Homo sapiens: one gene and its partners. The protein of the gene in region 3 purifies or fractionates together with the protein of the main gene of each other region. This does not show direct contact. Each region holds a gene or a part of one and is shown on either strand. Other genes may lie near its edges.

Region 1 (3,753 bases), on a different chromosome or scaffold from region 3:
GCGCATGACCCATATTGTTTACTTTTGTCTGTCTCTCTCAGTAGAATATAAACTTCATGAATGCCTAGACCTTGTCTGTGGTAGTCACTATATTTCTAGAATCTAGAAAAATATATGGCACATGAGTCCAAGGTATATCTAATTACTTGTCTCTTGAAAGATTTGTATTATACAAGTTCTGAGTAGGGTGGGAGCCATGTGTTTGTATAGGCTAGGCATTTACGTGGAGCAACTTCAAGCAGATACTTTAAAGATTAATTGGATATGGGTGGTAATGGGAGGAATTGAAAACATCTGAGATGTCTGTTTATGGAAGTAGTTCCTCAGTCACCTGGAGGTGGGGGCTAGGAGGGGAGAGAAACAGAAATTATATTCTTCTAAAGGTAGACGGGGGCAATCAGAGGAGCCAGTTGACAAGGCTGGGTTTTAATCATTTTGATTTTTAGAAAAAATCATTTGTTACAAACATGTCTTCATCATAGATTTCAAGGTATAAAGATGAGATTGGTATTCTGAATACTTCAGGTAAGAAAAGGTTTTGACGGTGGTAGTTGCATCACCAGTGTTAATACTTGTAGAGAAGGCAAGGATGATGAGAACTGAGGGGGAAAAATACTTTTATTTTTCTTCCTGAGACAGTTTCACTCTTGTCACCCAGGCTGGGGTGCAATGGCGCGATCTCAGCTCGCTGCAACCTCCGCCTCTCAGGTTCAAGCAATTATCCTGCCTCAGCCTCCCGAGTGGCTGGAATTACAGGTGCCTGCCACCATGCCTGGCCAATTTTTGTATTTTTAGTAGAGATGGGGTTTCACCATGTTGGCCAGGCTGGTCTTGAACTCCTGACCTCAAGTATTCCGCCCGTCTCAGCCTCCCAAAGTGCTGGGATTACAGGCATAAGTCACTGTGCCCGGCCTGGAAAAAGACTTGAATTTGGTTATTAGAAGTTTATTAGTGACATCTGGGTATACAGCTCGAGTTAGAGGAAGAAGCCAATTATAGAGGGTTAAAGAGAACATAGATGCTGTGTGCTTTTCTCAGTATGTTTTTGTTACAAAGATTGTTCTGCAGGGACATCACTTAAATCACATATAACAGTATCTTGTATCCCTAGTTGTGATGATGCCATAGATGTCTTGTTTCTACTTCTCTTTGGCTTCACGGTATTAAGCATGTAGTAGATGTGTTGAAAATAATAACTGTGTGAGTAAAAAAAAAAACGTACGGATGGCGTGTTCAAAACAGGCCGGGCGCAGTGGCTCACACCTGTAATCCCAGTACTTTGGAGGGCCAAGAAAGGAACAGGAAGATCACTTGAGTCCAGGAGTTTGAGACCACCCTGAGCATCATAGTGAGAGCCTCTCTCTTCCCCCAACCGCCACCCCCAGATATTAGCTGGGCATAGTGGCAAGAGCCTCTGGTCCCAGCTACTTGAGAGGCTGAGGTGGGAGGATTACTTGAGTCTGGGAGTGTGAGGATATAGTGAGCCATGATCATGCCACTGCGCTGCAGCCTGGGCGACAAGGTGAGACCCTGTCTCAAAAACAAACCAAACATTTATCAGTGAAAGGAAATAAATATAATACAATCTAAAGTAAGGGGTGTTTTGTTGTGTTTTGTTTTTGGATTGTTTGGAGACAGGAAGGAGCCAGTGGGAAGGGAAGGATGGTACTGAGCAAAATATGAGAGTTGAAGGAATAACGATTTGCAGTTATTTCCAGAAAGTGGTAAGAAGAAATGGGCTTATTTATTGTGGCTAAGGAGTTAACCTTAGAAAGGAGGTAGATCTCTTTCTCTGAGGTGCGATAGAAGTGAAAGTAGACATTGTGAGAGGTAAGAATATGAAGAAACCAATGACTTTCTCAGGTGATATCCTTAGAATGAGGTTTAGTGAATGAGGATTGGGGACCTTAAGGAGGTAGAAGAATTGCAATAACTATTGTGTGAGAATCATGCCAAGGAGTCAAAAGAATACCTCAAGTTTTACCAGATAGCAGTGAAAGTGAGTCTTGATTATTTTGGAAAGGATTATCTCTAGATAGTACATCTGTTGTAGAGCTTAACTTCAGAAACTTAATGTCCATAATAATGTCGGCATATTTTGGATTGGATTGCTATTATTACTTCTATATTTACCTATTATTCCAGCTATTTTTCAGACTGTGAAATGGTGATGTAGATGAGTTTCACTAGAAAATTTGTCATGCAAATACTAATTTTACTCATTCAGACTTTGTGGATTACAAATGTTTTAATATAAAATTTTTTGTTTTTTTTTTGAGATGGAGTCTCCCTCTGTTGCCCAGGCTGGAGTGTAGTGGCGCGATCTCGGCTCCCTGCAAGCTCCGCCTCCCGGGTTCATGCCATTCTCCTGCCTCAGCCTCCTGAGTAGCTGGGGCTACAGGCGCCGGCCACCACGCCCGGCTAATTTTTTGTATTTTTAGTAGAGACAGGGTTTCACCATGTTAGCCAGGATGGTCTCGGTCTCCTGACTTCGTGATCCGCCCGCCTCAGCCTCCCAAAGTGCTGGGATTACAGGCGTGAGCCACCGCGCCCGGCCAACATAAAACATTTTTAATGTTGCTTACATTGGAAAAACTTGAAGAAAATTGTAATCTGGTATCAAATGAGGGTTTTTGACTGTATAATTTTTAATTTATCATTGTATATTATAATTTAATCGTATATAATTTTGTAATTAAAGATCACAAATTCTTCAAATGGTGAAGAGGTTTTTTTTCATACCTTAAAATTTAATATTTAATATCTGGATAGAGAGAGGAATAGATTGAAGCACTGGAGTTTCTGAAAAATATTGAGATTGCTTTTTATTTATTTATTTATTTATTTAGAGATGGAGTCTTGCTCTGTTGCCCAGGCTGGAGTGCAGTGGCACGATCTCGGCTCGCTGCAAGCTCCACCTCCCGGGCTCACGCCATTCTCCTGCCTCAGCCTCCCAAGTAGCTGGGAGTACAGGCGCCTGCCACCATGCCCGGAGAATTTTTTGTATTTTTAGTGGAGACGGGGTTTCACCATGTTAGCCAGGATAGTCTCGATCTCCTGACCTTGTGATCCACCCACCTCGGCCTCCCAAAGTGCTGGGATTACAGGCGTGAGCTGCCGCGCCCGGCCGAGGTTGCTTTTTAAGTAGTAAAGATTTTAGAGTTGAGGAGATAACTTGAGGAGAGCTATGTCAATCTTTTATTCAATTATTTTATTTTTATTCATTTTTATTTTTAATTTATAAATTAATTTTTTAATTTTAAATAATAGAAATGGGGTTTTGCCATGTTGCCTAGGCTAGTTTTGAACTCCTAGACTCAAGTGATCCGCCTTCCTTGGCCTCTCAAAGTGCTAGGATTACAGGCGTGAGCTGCTGCGTCCAGCCTCCTTTATTCTGTTTTTATGAGAAAAAGTCAAGTTATAAAAATTTAAAATTTAGAGTAAATACAAATTTTACACTCTTATTAGTTTCCATTTTTCAAGAGACTTGTTCTTTGATAACCCTAAGGTCATTATAATAAAAATTAGGATTAGCTCTGCAAGTCAACTGTAAGTTTCAGATTGTTTCCATTCTTTCTTAACCATCTTCTTCTGCCCCCATCTTTAAAAAAAAAAGGCAGTAGGCTTTATGGCTCTAAAATCAAATGCTTATGTTGGATTCTAATAAGGGGGTTTTATTTCAGGTATTTGTAGGCAAAATACCAAGGGATTTATATGAGGATGAGTTGGTGCCCCTTTTTGAGAAGGCCGGAC
Region 2 (3,753 bases), on a different chromosome or scaffold from region 3:
ATGTGTATTTTAGTATTCGTAAAGCCAGTTCTAGATTGTATTACTGATAAATGATCATTTAAGAGTTCATAAGTATGAATTCCATATTCCTTACTTGTCTCTAATTAGCAAACACTGAATTCCTGGTCTCTACCAAGTTGCTTAGTTACATAGGAAACTAGGGTACCCTCATCCTTGAATAATCTTTCTCTAAAAGATTACAAGGTTAATTTTCTCAATTAAAATCATAAATTTAAAATACTTTTATGTAATATCAGCTCTCTACCAGGTATAAAACTTGAAAACCTTTTCACAGGGAGAATGAAGTTGAAGAGGTAAAAGAGGAGGGTCCAAAAGAGATGACTTTGGATGAGTGGAAGGCTATTCAAAATAAGGACCGGGCAAAAGTAGAATTTAATATCCGAAAACCAAATGAAGGTGCTGATGGGCAGTGGAAGAAGGGATTTGTTCTTCATAAATCAAAGAGTGAAGAGGTAAAATTAAGTTTTGTCGTGTTTGAAAATGTTCAGATGTGACTTGAATTGTATTTATAATTTTTGTTTTAAAATTTCACATGGGTTATTTGTCTGTTAAAGCTTTACATAGGATCATTTGGGGCAGATAATTTGCTTTATAAGGAAAATAAACTGTATTATCACATATTCTAAGAAATTTAGTCCTTTGATCAATTTGTAATTATGTTTTATGTGGTAGAGTTACTTTTTCCTAAAAAGCTGTTAGTGGAGTATCTTGTAGTTATTGGTGTTCAGAAATATGATAGTTCTTTTCAAAGTTGTGGTTGTATTTTTGAAATCTTGCCAAACTGGGGATCATTAAAGGGCTGTGGTATTATGGTGTTAGGTTGAAATCTTGACATTTTCATATGGTTTAACCTAAAATGTAAGTGACTTCATTTAGAATTCAACTTTTGAAACTGTCTGCCTATACCATATATAATGGCCAGGACACTCAGTAAATGGCAATGTGCATTTTGTCTAAGGAATGACGACTTTAAAAACCAAAGTATATGTGGGTTTTACTTAAGAAACATGGAAACTAGTGAAAATACAGTTGACTTGTTGAACAACATGAGGATGCTAGGGGCACTGACCCCGCAGATCAATGCACATGTAACCTTTGACTCTCCCAAAACTTAACTACTAATAACCTGTTGACTGAAAGTCTTAGTGATAACATAACCAGTTAACACATTTTGTATGTTGCGTATTATATACTGTGTTTTTACAGTAAAGTAAGCTAAAGAAAATGTTGAGAAAATATATTTACTGTTCATTAAGTGGAACTGGATCATCACAAAGGTCTTTATTTTGGATAGGAAGAAAAGGGATTGGGCTTGCTTGTCTCAAGACTGACAGAGGCAGAATGTTCAAAGCCACGTTGTTCAAGGGTCAACTGTATTGGAGAAAGTCACATTGATGGCTTTTGATTTGGTAGCTTCCGTTTAAGCTTTGGGGTGTGTTCTTAGAGGAATGTTTCAGTGCGGCTTCCTGTTTGGCTTTAAAAACTCATACAAGCCCTAACTATATTATTTCTTCTCCTAAATTCATTTTCTCTATCAGCTTCCTTTAACCTTTTGACATTTGTGTTTGATTTATTCATATCATAAATTGGGCTGTGCCAGAAATCCAGACTGAGTTTTATCATCCTAAGGTAAAGTTAAATTAAAATATTGTGAGGGCAAACCCTTTCAATAAGGTATTAGTTATTTTTATTTTTTTTTTTTGAGACAGAATCTGGCTCTGTCGCCCAGGCTGGAATGCAGTGGCACCATCTCTGCTTACCGCAACCTCCACCTCCCGGATTCAAACAGTTCTTGTGTCTCAACCTCCTCAGTAGCTGGGATTACGGACACTCGCCACCATGCCCGGATAATGTTTGTGTTTTTAGTAGAGATGAGGTTTCATCATGTTGGCCAGGCTGGTCTCAAACTCCTGGCCTCAGTGATCCCCGCCTGCCTCAGCCTCCCAAAGTGCTGGGATTATAGGCGTGTGCCACCATGCCCAGCCAATAAGCATAATTTTTTAAACTGCAAAATGGCTATAAGACAAACTTGGAAACATTTTAAAATAAAATGGAGGTTAAAAAGATTAAAAGTTTTTTTAGGTTTAGAGATGATTTTTAACATTTACTTCATATGAGTAGTAAATGAGGACATTGTCTTTTTTAAGTCCTGTAGAAAAAAAACTGCATTAGAACACGTGGTTTCAGCCAGGCGCAGTGGCTCACACCTGTAATCCCAGCACTTTTGGGAGACTGAGGCGGGCGGATCACCTGAGGTCGGGAGTTCAAGACCAGTCTGACCAACATGGAGAAACCCCGTCTCTACTAAAGATACAAAATTAGCCTGGTGTGGTGGTGCATGCCTGTAATCCCAGCTACTCAGGAGGCTGAGGCAGGAGAATCACTTTAACACAGGAGGCAGAGGTTGCAGTGAGCTGAGATCACACCACTGCACTCCAGCCTGGGCAACAGAGCAAGACTGTCTCAAAAAAAAAAAAAAAAAAAAAAAACAACACTTTAACTTTCACATGTCTTCATTCTCGTGACAAATGTGAGGTAGTTAAGGGGAAGGAAGAAACTATTTACAAATGGAGAACTGTGTTACCGTGTTATTGACAGAGCTCAGAGTTTCTGTTTTCTGCTCCTCATTGTCTGAGTGCTCTAGAAAAAAGGTCGGACACAGTGGCTTACACCTGTAATCCCAGCACTTCGGGAGGCTGAGGTGGGCAGATTGTTGAGTTAAAAGTTTGAGACCAGCCTGGGTAACATGGCAAAACCCTGTTTCTACAAAAAATATAAAAATTATCTGGATGTGGTTGCGTGCACCTGTGGTCTCAGTTACCTGGGAGGCTGAGGCGGGAGAGGATCACTTGAGCCCAGGAGGCAGAGGTTGCAGTGAGCCAAGATAGCATCACTGCATTCCAACCTAGTTGACAGAGCAAGACTGTTTCAAAAAAAGGAAAAAAGAAAAAAAAAAAGGATCCCCCTGCCCTGACTTTATCCCAGTACAGTTTCTTGGTATCTGCAGGGGATTCGTTCCAGGACCCAGAGATATTAAAATTTTCAGATGCTCATGTCCATTATATAAAATGGCATAGTATCTGCATATAGCCTAAACACGTTTTCCCTATACTTTATTTTTTATTGTTTCTATTTTTTAATTTAAAATATAGAACAATTTACAGTTTTGCGTGTCATCCTTGTGGGGATCATGCTAATAATCTTTGTATTGTTCCACTTTTAGTATATATGCTGCCAAAGTGAGCACTCCCTCATACACTTTATTTTGAGACAAGGTCTTGCTCTGTCATGTAGGCTGGAATGCAGTAGCATGGTCACAGCTTACTGCAGCCTCAACCTCCCCGTGCTCAAGCGATCCTTCTAGCTCAGCCTCCTGAGTAGCTGGAACTACACACCTGTGCCAACTCCTGGACTCAAGCAGCCCTTCTGCCTATGCCTCCCAGAGTGCTGGGATTACAAGTGTCAGCCACCACACCTGGCCTACTTTTTATTGTTATATGGTTGGTTGGTTTTATTTTTTTCTGAATATTTTCGATCTGTGGTTTGCAATAAATTGAAAGCATTGGTTTGAAATAGCAAACATTTAAAAATCACACAATTAGTATATATAATTGATTCTAATTTGCTGGTGTTTTGTGAATTTGTTTTTATGTTTCTAGCCTCCTTTAAAATTTGTATTAGAACATTCTATTGCCTTACAGTGTGTTGGTTTGGTACAAAGGAGTGACATTT
Region 3 (3,753 bases):
TGTTCTTTATCATATTCTGCCTCCAAACTCTTGCTAAGTGAGGCTTTTAGATTTCCAGTTTGAATGACTGGGTAAATGGGATGCCATCAGCAAAGAGACAGGAAAAACCAGGGCAAGATGATGACTTCAGCTTTAGATATGCTGTGTTTGAGATACCTTTATGAGATGTATAGCAGGTGGTTGGATATAATAGTCTGAAACAGGGGCATGGACTGGGCTAGATGTATAGATTAAGAAACTGGCTGGGGGACGTGGCTCACGCCTGTAATCCCAGCACTTTGGGAGGCCGAGGCGGGTGTATCACCTAAGATCAGGAGTTTGAAACCAGCCTGGCCAACATGGCAAAACTCCATCTCTACTAAAAATACAAAAATTAGCTGGGCATGGTGGCACACGCCTGTAATCACAGCTACTTGGGAGGCTGAGGCAGGAGAATAGCTAGAACCCGGGAGGCAGAGGTTGCAGTGAGCCGATATTGCGCCACTGCACTCCAGCCTGGGAGACAAAGCAAGACTCCATCAATCTCAAAAAAAAAAAAAAAAAAAAAAATTAAGAAAGAAAAAAAAAGAAAAAAGAAATCAACAACATGTGGCTGGGCAAGGAGGCACTTGCAATAATCTCAGCAGTTTAGGAGGCCAACACAGGATTGCTTGAGCCCAGGAGTTTGAGATCATCCTGGACAAGGTCATGAGACCCCATCTCCACAAGGAAATAAAAAAATTAGCTGGACGTGGTGGCACACACCTATACTCCCAGCTACTCGGGAGGCTGAGGTGGGAGAATCACTTGTGCCCAGGAAGCTGAGGTGCAGTAAACCATGTTCGTGCTATGTACTCCAGTCCAGGCAACAGAGTGAGACCTTGTCTTAAACACAAAAACAAACCTGTGAGGCCATTTGCACTTCAGTTTCCCTTAAATATTGTTCACTAGGTATTTCAGCCCACACGTCTTCTCATTATATGTAATCCTTATTCTTTTAGGGCCATCTCATCCATTCTTATGGTTGCATGTTGTTGATTTCTTTTTTCTTCTTTTTGGTAGAGACAGGGTCTCACTATGTTGCCTAGAGCTGGTCTCCAACTCCTGTCTTCAAGTGATCCCCCACCTTGGCCTCCCAAAGTGCTGAGATTACAGGCGTGAGCTGCCATCTGGCCCTGAAGTACAATTCTTTACTATTTTTTTGAGAGCATTCTAGACTAAAATCACTTAATATCCATCAACCATTACTTACTGGCAATAGCAAATTAATTCCAATACTTCCTAATCTGGAAACAATGTCACTTTACATAGCATAAGCTTTCTGTCTTCTAAGACCTCAGCAAAATAATTAAACTTGCTAAAATCACCACTAGAAAGTTATGAAGAGGACAGGGTATTAAGATTCCAAAACAAAATTAGGTATTTCTGTCTACTAAATATCATTCTGAAACCTGACACACTGGCATTATAGGGTCCAAAAAAGTAAAATTATATGCATTACTCACTTCAGTAGTTTTTGGATTCAGAGCTAACTTTCTAAGTTACAAAGAGCAAAAACATGTTGCTGAAAGATCTTGCCTGAAACTACAGCAAAGGTGTTTACAAAATCTTTTCTGATATTCATAGGAAAACAAGCAATTTACTGTATTGGAAAAGGAAAACATATGATTTCATTTTGCATTTCCTTTAAGAAAACAGCCTTATCTGATGAGATTTGGGTAGCCTGTAGCCAAATACTTCCACTGTGTTCCACTTTTGCAACCAAAATTATCAAATGAATTTTATTTAAATGGAAAAGTCAGTTAAAACCAGAATATCCTTTGTCCAATCAGTCAATAAACTATTACCATACTGTCAATTTTCCATTCCATAAACAAGATTTCAAAAACAGGTATGAATCTGGGGTAGCAGTGGTTTGAAAATTAGGATTCAATTTAAAACAGAGCTAGAATCCAAAATTTACTTGCTGAAATGTTTAAGGTCTTTAATTTCAAAACACTTACTAAGCATAATATATCCAGAGATTGGCAATTAATTTTAACAATTTAGGTCTTTAGTAAAATTAATGTGGGCAGAAAATGTTACTTCATTACAAAGTGTTACTATATACTTTGTCTTGTGACTAACTAGAGCTTACAGGAGTATAAACAAGTTAACTGAATTTTTCAGTGGCTGAGGATTTTGTATACTTCCTCATTTTGAACTTCAATCATGACTATATAATCATATTCATACATCTGAGACTGAACTAGATATAAAGATATCACAACACCCACTAGAACTGGTTAATTAGATATGCCCATTATTTCTTCACTATTTACCGAAGAAAAGTATGAAGAAAAAAAGACTAATTTGGTTTAATTATGGTTACATAAAAATTATGTAAATATTCAAACATTTGATGAAATCATCATACTCCAACCATAAAGAATTGTAATTCCTAATGGTTAAGCAGCTTTCAGATATCATTAATAAAATACATGACTGTCATTAAAAAAATTATCATTCAGTGCTATTGATTTTATAAATAACCTTTTAGGTTAGGCCCTGCCATACCAAATTTCCTTCCTGCCTTTTTTTTTTTTTTTTTTTTGAGACAGACTCTCGCTCTGTTGCCCAGGCCAGAGTGCAGTGGCGTGATCTCGGCTCACTGCCAGCTCCGCCTCCTGGGTTCACGCCATTCTCCTGCCTCAGCTGTAGCAGCTAGGACTACAGGCGTCTGCCACCACGCCCAGCTAATTTTTTGTATTTTCAGTAGAGATGGGTTTTCACAGTGTTAGCCAGGATAGTCTCGATCTCCTGACCTCGTGATCCGCCCGCCTCGGCCTCCCAAAGTGCTGGGATTACAGGCGTAAGCCACTGCGTCCAGCCCTCTGCCTTCTTTTAAAATAAATCAGGTAGACCTAAACTAACTTAAATGTTCTCATGAAAATCAGTAAACAGCTTGGTTTTGTATTAACTTTTAGATCTCCTCAGGAACCTACATGTGACAAATTCCTAAGTTTAACACCTTAATATTACTAGTAAGTAGCATGAGTGGTAGACTATGTCTGGACTCCACATCCTGCCACTTCCATTCCAGTATCTGGACCACATCACCACTAGGAGTATGGAGTTAATCATCAGTATGACACAGCATTGAAATTCTAAGCACTGCTGTTACTAATTTTGTTAATGTATGCATATAAACAGGTATATAAACACTAAAGCCATAAAAGAGCAGTATCTATTTCTTTAGTACTAAAAGAATTTCAACTGTTAGAAAAATGAATTGGCTTAAGAGACAAAAACAAAGCAAAACAAAACAAAACATGCATCTTGAAAGTTAAAAACAAACAAACTGAAGAAAAAGCCAGTTGAAGTATTTGGATTTAACTTTACCCAACTAAGACATTCACACAACATATGCATGTCAGTCTCCTGTTCAGTCCTAGAGCCTGCAGTATTGTAATTTATTGTAAAACCATGTAACCAAATACTTAAATATATCCACAACATCTATACCACAGAAATGCATAGTACATAATATACTAACATCTCAAAATAAACTTCTATTACAGTTTTATGCAAATTATGGTAAAAGATTATCACCTGCCACATTTTGAAATGGCACCAACTTCAACATCAATGCACTAGTCAAAATCCTTACTAGAAGTGATGTCTTCTGCATTATCATCTGAACATTCAAAATCAAGCTGTTAATCTAATAACCACAGTATGTTATCATTTAAAATCACTGTATATTTGGATGTTAAAGCAGGTAGTAATACAGCA

What was found.
Region 1: the proteins of CAND1 (region 3) and HNRNPR purify together in Homo sapiens (affinity purification with mass spectrometry; 2 studies listed by BioGRID and IntAct, with this or other methods). This does not show direct contact.
Region 2: the proteins of CAND1 (region 3) and SERBP1 purify together in Homo sapiens (affinity purification with mass spectrometry; 2 studies listed by BioGRID and IntAct, with this or other methods). This does not show direct contact.

The regions. Positions count from the first base shown.
Region 1 is NC_000001.11:23,323,663-23,327,415, reverse strand, and holds part of HNRNPR (heterogeneous nuclear ribonucleoprotein R), read left to right. Parts: intron 1-3,683; coding exon 3,684-3,753. UniProt on the Homo sapiens protein: Component of ribonucleosomes, which are complexes of at least 20 other different heterogeneous nuclear ribonucleoproteins (hnRNP). hnRNP play an important role in processing of precursor mRNA in the nucleus.
Region 2 is NC_000001.11:67,416,729-67,420,481, reverse strand, and holds part of SERBP1 (SERPINE1 mRNA-binding protein 1), read left to right. Parts: intron 1-295; coding exon 296-473; intron 474-3,753. UniProt on the Homo sapiens protein: Ribosome-binding protein that promotes ribosome hibernation, a process during which ribosomes are stabilized in an inactive state and preserved from proteasomal degradation.
Region 3 is NC_000012.12:67,314,270-67,318,022, reverse strand, and holds part of CAND1 (cullin-associated NEDD8-dissociated protein 1), read right to left. Parts: 3' UTR 1-3,753. UniProt on the Homo sapiens protein: Key assembly factor of SCF (SKP1-CUL1-F-box protein) E3 ubiquitin ligase complexes that promotes the exchange of the substrate-recognition F-box subunit in SCF complexes, thereby playing a key role in the cellular repertoire of SCF complexes.